2 separate regions of the Homo sapiens genome follow, and region 1 is linked to region 2. Evidence: fine-mapped expression QTL. A gene starts in region 2. The other region holds a variant in brackets. All regions are shown on one strand. Distances are between the middles of the regions. Region 1 overlaps YBX3 (Y-box binding protein 3). Region 2 holds the start of YBX3 (Y-box binding protein 3).

Region 1 (2,914 bases), 26 kb before region 2:
GAGGTACTGGAGGTTAGGACTTCAACATTTGAGTTTTAGGGGGACACAATTTGGCCCTTAACAGCCATTCTGGAAAACATCTTAGGAACTTTTTAAAATAACAACACACACACACACACACACACACACACACACACACACACTTCTTCCCACAATTTTTATTACTCGGGAAATTCTGTTCTCAACTGATAAGAGGGAGTTTTCACCAGTGGTGCCAAGTCCATGTGACAGGCACAGGCGTTGCCTGGAACCCCTTATGTGCAAGCCTTCATGAATTTGACAATGAGATCAATGCATAAAAGAACAATACTATGGCAATAACAAAGTGGTGATTTCTAGTCTCTTTTATCAGATGCCTCTATTCTATACCCCTTTTACTAGAATACTGTCCAAACTAGAGGCATAGGGAGGGATCTGCAAACTAAGCTCCCCGTGTTATTTGACCAGTGTGGATCATTCATTAGAGCTTACCATCCCCATTCTGAAAGCCTGGGTGATTCTGGAGCTAGCTCATCAGTTAAAATGAAATGCTTTCACAAAGCATTTTGGGAAAATCACAAAGCTGATGAATTCTTATTTCTGCTACTGCACAAGATCACATTTCCAGAGATTTATATCAGCACCTGTATCCTTTCTAGACTTTTTCTTATTAAACAAAATGCTTATGCCATAATATACAAAATCAATCTTGAGATTCTTTTCCATTTTTTAACTGAAACTAGCTTCAATCTAATTTAGCTCTAAATTTTTTCTTTAAAATCTCAAAACATGTCTTTATAAACACATTTATCCACTCCACTAAGAGCAAAAAGCTTTCAAAACTTGCATCTTTGCAATAAACACAAGAGCCCTTATAACAGTTACAGCTGACTTACTTGTGATCTGAAAGCACCCATCACTCTTGACACATAGTAGGAGGCAAATACTGATTTGCATAGTGCTATTTTCTGATAGGTGCAGTGCCATCAAATATGAACAACCACAGAGTTAAGTTGTGATTGCCGTATGACAGATAGCCTTCTAGTTAATTTCTGGCTGTGGTCTCACCCCGGTAGCCTGTATTTCTTGATAAAGCAATCCAAGGTCCCTCACCAGTAAAATAACATACTTTTGGCCCATCCTCACATCACATCCAATTTGTGTT[A/G]TTTCTGTACCTACAACCAGTGTGTTTTCCCCAACTCTGCATTCATCATTCCATTTTATTTTATTTTTTCCCAGAAATAGAATAGCTACCATCCTGAAACAGATGACAGTATTTAGAAGTAAGGATGTTGGGATTATATCAAGCAAAATGTTTGCAATGGCAATTAAGATACCCTCAATATCCCATGATAGAAGGCTAGTACAATTATGGATAGCTATGTAATGGAATGTTATATAGTCAGTACAAATGATGAGAGGACTCTATAGGAAAAATATTAGGTGAAAAAGAAAATCAGTGCCAAAAAGTATACGTACATTTTAAAAACATTTTAAAAAGTATGTTTGAAATATTCTATACTAGAATAGCTTTAAAGTGAGCAGGAAGAGAGAAGGGGAAGTTAGGAAAAAGAAGACTGGCTAAATAGTATAGTTGAACTATCCATAGAATTTTAAACATGGATATGTCTAATGATTGTTTTTAAGTTGTTAACATAAGCACAATTTAAGCTCATTTCCTCTTCTCAAATTTGCATTAGTCGGCCAATCACACACACACATACACACACACACACACACACACACAGAGACTCACACACATGAAATATGTGAAATGGGTCTATTTTTAAGATATGCTAACTGGTTGCCTGGAGGAAACTGGAACCAAGATGGGAGCCTTTTTTAATAGAATAAAATAGTTGATTTTTTTTTTGCCTTGGCCTATTACCAATTTTTACCAACCCTTTTAACTTGCAAGATAATACAAGGTTCTTGAACAGTTCACATTCACCTGCTTGCCATTTATTAGGCCAAGAATGCTCCCTCCACCTGCAATGCTCTTCCCTGCAGATACTCAAATGTTTAATGCCCCTTCACCTTAGGACTCCATTTAAATAGGAGACCCTCCCCACTATTTAAAATCAACATATCCCCTATGATTATGCCAGTCCCTGTCCTCCTACCATGTTTTATGTTTCTTAACAGCACTTATTGCCATCTAAATTAAATTCCATACTTGTTTATTTTCTGTATGTACCTGGTCATTGAAACAATGGTATTTTGTTGGTTTGTTCCATCCTAGCCACTAGAATAATGTTTAGCACAAACCTACACTGGATATGTACTGCTGCAGCAGTTCTGAAAAGTAACTATACGGCACTGACAGCTGCGATAGTTTTTCTCAACTTAGGGGCACCATGGCTGGGAGGGGGAGAAATGTAGTTGTAAAGAGCTCCCTTGTATACCTACAACACAGCAGTTACTGGTAAAAACCTCAGGCTGGAAGTTGAAGGATGTTAGAACTATTAACTCCTTCGTTAATCTAAAGGTCATCACGTCACCTCACTGAATGAAGATTACTCAAAAAGAGACAGTACCAAATAATTCATGCCTACTACTGAACTCAGACATGAACTTGTCAATTTCCAGCTGTACATTTCAACAGGAATCCAATTTTTTATCATCTCAAGCTTATATGCCTAAATTTGTGAAACAGCATTAACTTAACTTTACATTTGGCTTTGAATTTACTATTAATCAAGTCAAGTAAATCAAGTGGTGGAGAAGACAAACACACGCTAAGGTCGGCAAAAATACACTCCCATTAAACATTCTGTCCTCTGAAGGGTAAAAATTTTATTTTTGAGGAATTTCTTACTGCACATTTTCAAAGAGAGTCACATAAGAAAGCAAAAATGTTATCCTCCCCTCATCCTAGAAATAAATAAGAAGGACATAAATTTTTTTTTTTTTTAAATCATGACACTTGGAGGTT
Region 2 (2,914 bases):
GTGGGCACAGAGAGGGGGAGGAAGACGTGGGACTAAGACCCAAGTTTCCCGGAGACGATTGCAACATCTCTTTGCTGGCATGTGGCCAACAGGAGCATGGCGTCTTTCCCATGCCCATGTGGGAAGGGCGTCAGGGACAGACACCTGACCCTTCCTGGCAAGAAGCTTTTCTATCTTTCCCTCCCCGTCTCCTTCTAGCGCCCTCCTCTTCCCCAAAGGAAATGCTCTCCTTTCCCAGATCCCAAGCAAGGACCCCAAAGCGCCAGGCCCACGTGTCGGTCCTTCCCCTACATCCATCCCTACCCAAGGTCCCCTCTCCCAGACTGCCTCTCCTTTCTTCTCCAAACGCAGGCATTTTCCACCACGCGAATCCGCAACAGTGCCCGTCTGGGAGACAGAAGTTAAGACCTAAACTTTCTGGCCCGGAACCAGAAGGGAGATGCACACGGCCGCCAGGAGCGCAGGGCGCAGCGCGCTCACCTGGGAGCGCCGGCAAGGGAGGCGGCCAGCGCTGGGGACCCGGAGACCCCTGGGGACCCGGAGATCCCTGGGGACCCTGTGCTGTCAGCGTCTCCAGCCCGGGTGGGAGATGTAGCGCGAGCTGCCCACACGTGCTCCGCGGCCGGCTGGGCCCGCCCCACTACGGCAGCCCCTGCCCTCCCTGGCCTGACTCACCGAGAACTTTTTTCTCCGCGTCTTCGCTGCCGGCGGCGGTGGCTAAAGAGGCGGCGGCCGCGGTGCCCGTGGCTGCGGGGGCCGCGTCCCCACCGGGGTTTCCTGCGACGTGGGCGGCGGGCGCCGGGGCCGCGGCCTGGGGCGCACCGCTGCCCACCGGGCTCTTGGGCGCGGGGTCCTGGGGAGCCGCGGCGGCCGCCTCCGTCGGAGCCTGCGGGAGGGTGGTGGTGGTGGTGGTGGTGGCCTCGCCCGCCTCACTCATGCCTCCTCCTCCTCTGCTCTCGCTCAGGCGCCTCGGTGGCGGTTGGTCGGCGGTTAGCGCGGCTGGTGGTCGCGGCGGCCGGGGCTCGCTCTCGGGGAGGCCGGGGCGGATCTCGCGGCGCAGGCGGCGGCGGCCGAGGTGGGGTCGCGCGGCGGAGGCGGCTCGAGCTTCGTGCTGCGCGCTCTCTCTTGGGCTCCTCGCTCGATCTTACTGCCCCAAAAATGGCCCCGCACAAGTTTTTCTAGGCGGCGCACCGGCCCGGGAGGGAAGGGCGGGCGAGGGGAGAGGGTGGGGAAACTTGGCTCGGGAGTCGGGCCCTGGACTCTCATTAGCATTTAAAGGCGCCCGGTGCGCTTTCTATGGCTCCAATCCGCCGGGACGCGAGCGCGCGGGTCGCGTTGCAGAACCAAGGAAAGCCAGGGTGAACGGGGCGCCCGGGTTGTCTTCTGGAGCGTTCCGAGGAGCCCGCGCTGCTGACCCTTTGTTGGAGCGGGGTGCATTGGCTCTCCTCCCTCAACCCGTCTTGACACCCGCAGCTGACAAGGAGAGGTAAAATAGGGCACCCAAACTACTCTGCGCTTTACCCTCTCAAACACTTGTTTTTAAATCCTTTGCATCTAGTCAGTCATTCAACATGTATCAAGCACCAGCAGCTATTCGTAGCACAGCTGTTAAGACCTGGAATAATAAAACCTTAAGACTATTTGGCAACTTACTCCTGAAAGGTAATATACGGATAATTTCATCTGTAACACGCAGATGAGGAAATTGACCTCACAGATTTAATGTAAATTCAGAGTTTACACCAATTTAACCGCAACAAATAAGGAGCTGTCAATATATATTTAATAAGGAACACACACAAAAAAAGCTGAATAAATCCACTTCCTACCTTCTGCTCCAGTTGCCTCTGCCAGCTGGTGAAAGCTTAAGGAACTGAGCCCTCTTAGCCTCGAGGATGAGAGGTATAGAGAAACAGATCACCCAATAAACATTATTCCCAAGTTGAAGAGCCCACATGCCCTTTGAGAATGGGCTGGATGGTAGTAAACACAGGGCCAGAGGGTCTGGGATCTGTACCCAAAGACTGTCTGGAATACAGGACTATTTGGCCCCTAGGGTTCAGACAGACTAGGTATAAATTCTGGCTTTGTTTTTTATTAACCAGGTTAACTTGGGACAGAGATTCAATGTCCCAGAGTCGGTTTCCTGCTTTATGAGAGGTTCTCAAAGGTGACATGAAAAGTAGATGAGATTATCATGTGTCACTCCAGTGTCCGGTCCACCTAAAGCTCCTTTGTTTTGTTTGTTTTTTAAGTTATTGCCTGTTCCCTCAAACAATTTACCAAATTTTTTTCCAGGAATATGTCTGTAATGTCGATGTCTACCTTAACATCAGTAGGGTAACTATCAAGTGTAATTCATCTTTGTATCTCCACTGGTTAGTACAGTACGTAGCACAGAGTTTGGACATAGTGAATGTTTACAAAATGAAAACAGACCAAATTCTTCCAAACTCAATTACTTATCTGCACATTTGCTATCAATTATTATGAAACTTTCCTGAATTCTTACTTTCTTATTTCATCCACAAAAAACACAAAGAAAATAAGTTATTTGAAAAAATAGCAAATTATGTAATTTTGAGCTTTTCTATGTAATTCATCAATATTTAAAAAATTACAAACTCTTAAATGTTAGATTCATATTTTAGTTTGACTTCAGTATGGAGCATACAGTGATGTTATATAAATGTAGATGCTTTTAAAATGCTGGTCTAATTCTAAGAATGATTAAATTATTTCTTCATGTGAAAGATTATGGTCTTAATTACAATTAAATTATAAACATGATTTATTCTGGTGAGGACTGACCATTGACTTTCTTATTCAGCAAAATGATTATCATTGCTATTTACCTTTCAGAATTACATTACAAGAAAAAAAAGTAAGGAGATTGAACTCTTCAAACCGATCC

The links.
Region 1: its variant is fine-mapped to the expression of YBX3 in whole blood (INTERVAL, PIP above 0.99).

Annotation. Positions count from the first base shown.
Region 1 is chr12:10,696,334-10,699,247 of GRCh38, forward strand. YBX3 (Y-box binding protein 3) reads right to left here. Exons shown (of 10, transcript NM_003651.5): 10 at 2,756-2,914. Among named protein-coding and RNA genes, the nearest start is that of STYK1, 24 kb to the left of the region's middle. The variant A/G (reference allele first, on the strand shown) is at 1,145.
Region 2 is chr12:10,722,175-10,725,088 of GRCh38, forward strand. YBX3 (Y-box binding protein 3) reads right to left here and starts at 1,149. Exons shown (of 10, transcript NM_003651.5): 1 at 676-1,149. The coding sequence starts at 937. It overlaps LOC124902876, which reads left to right and starts at 878. Exons shown (of 2, transcript XM_047429946.1): 1 at 878-1,486; 2 at 2,863-2,914. The coding sequence starts at 936. RefSeq lists silencers at 395-794, 925-1,024, 1,045-1,264.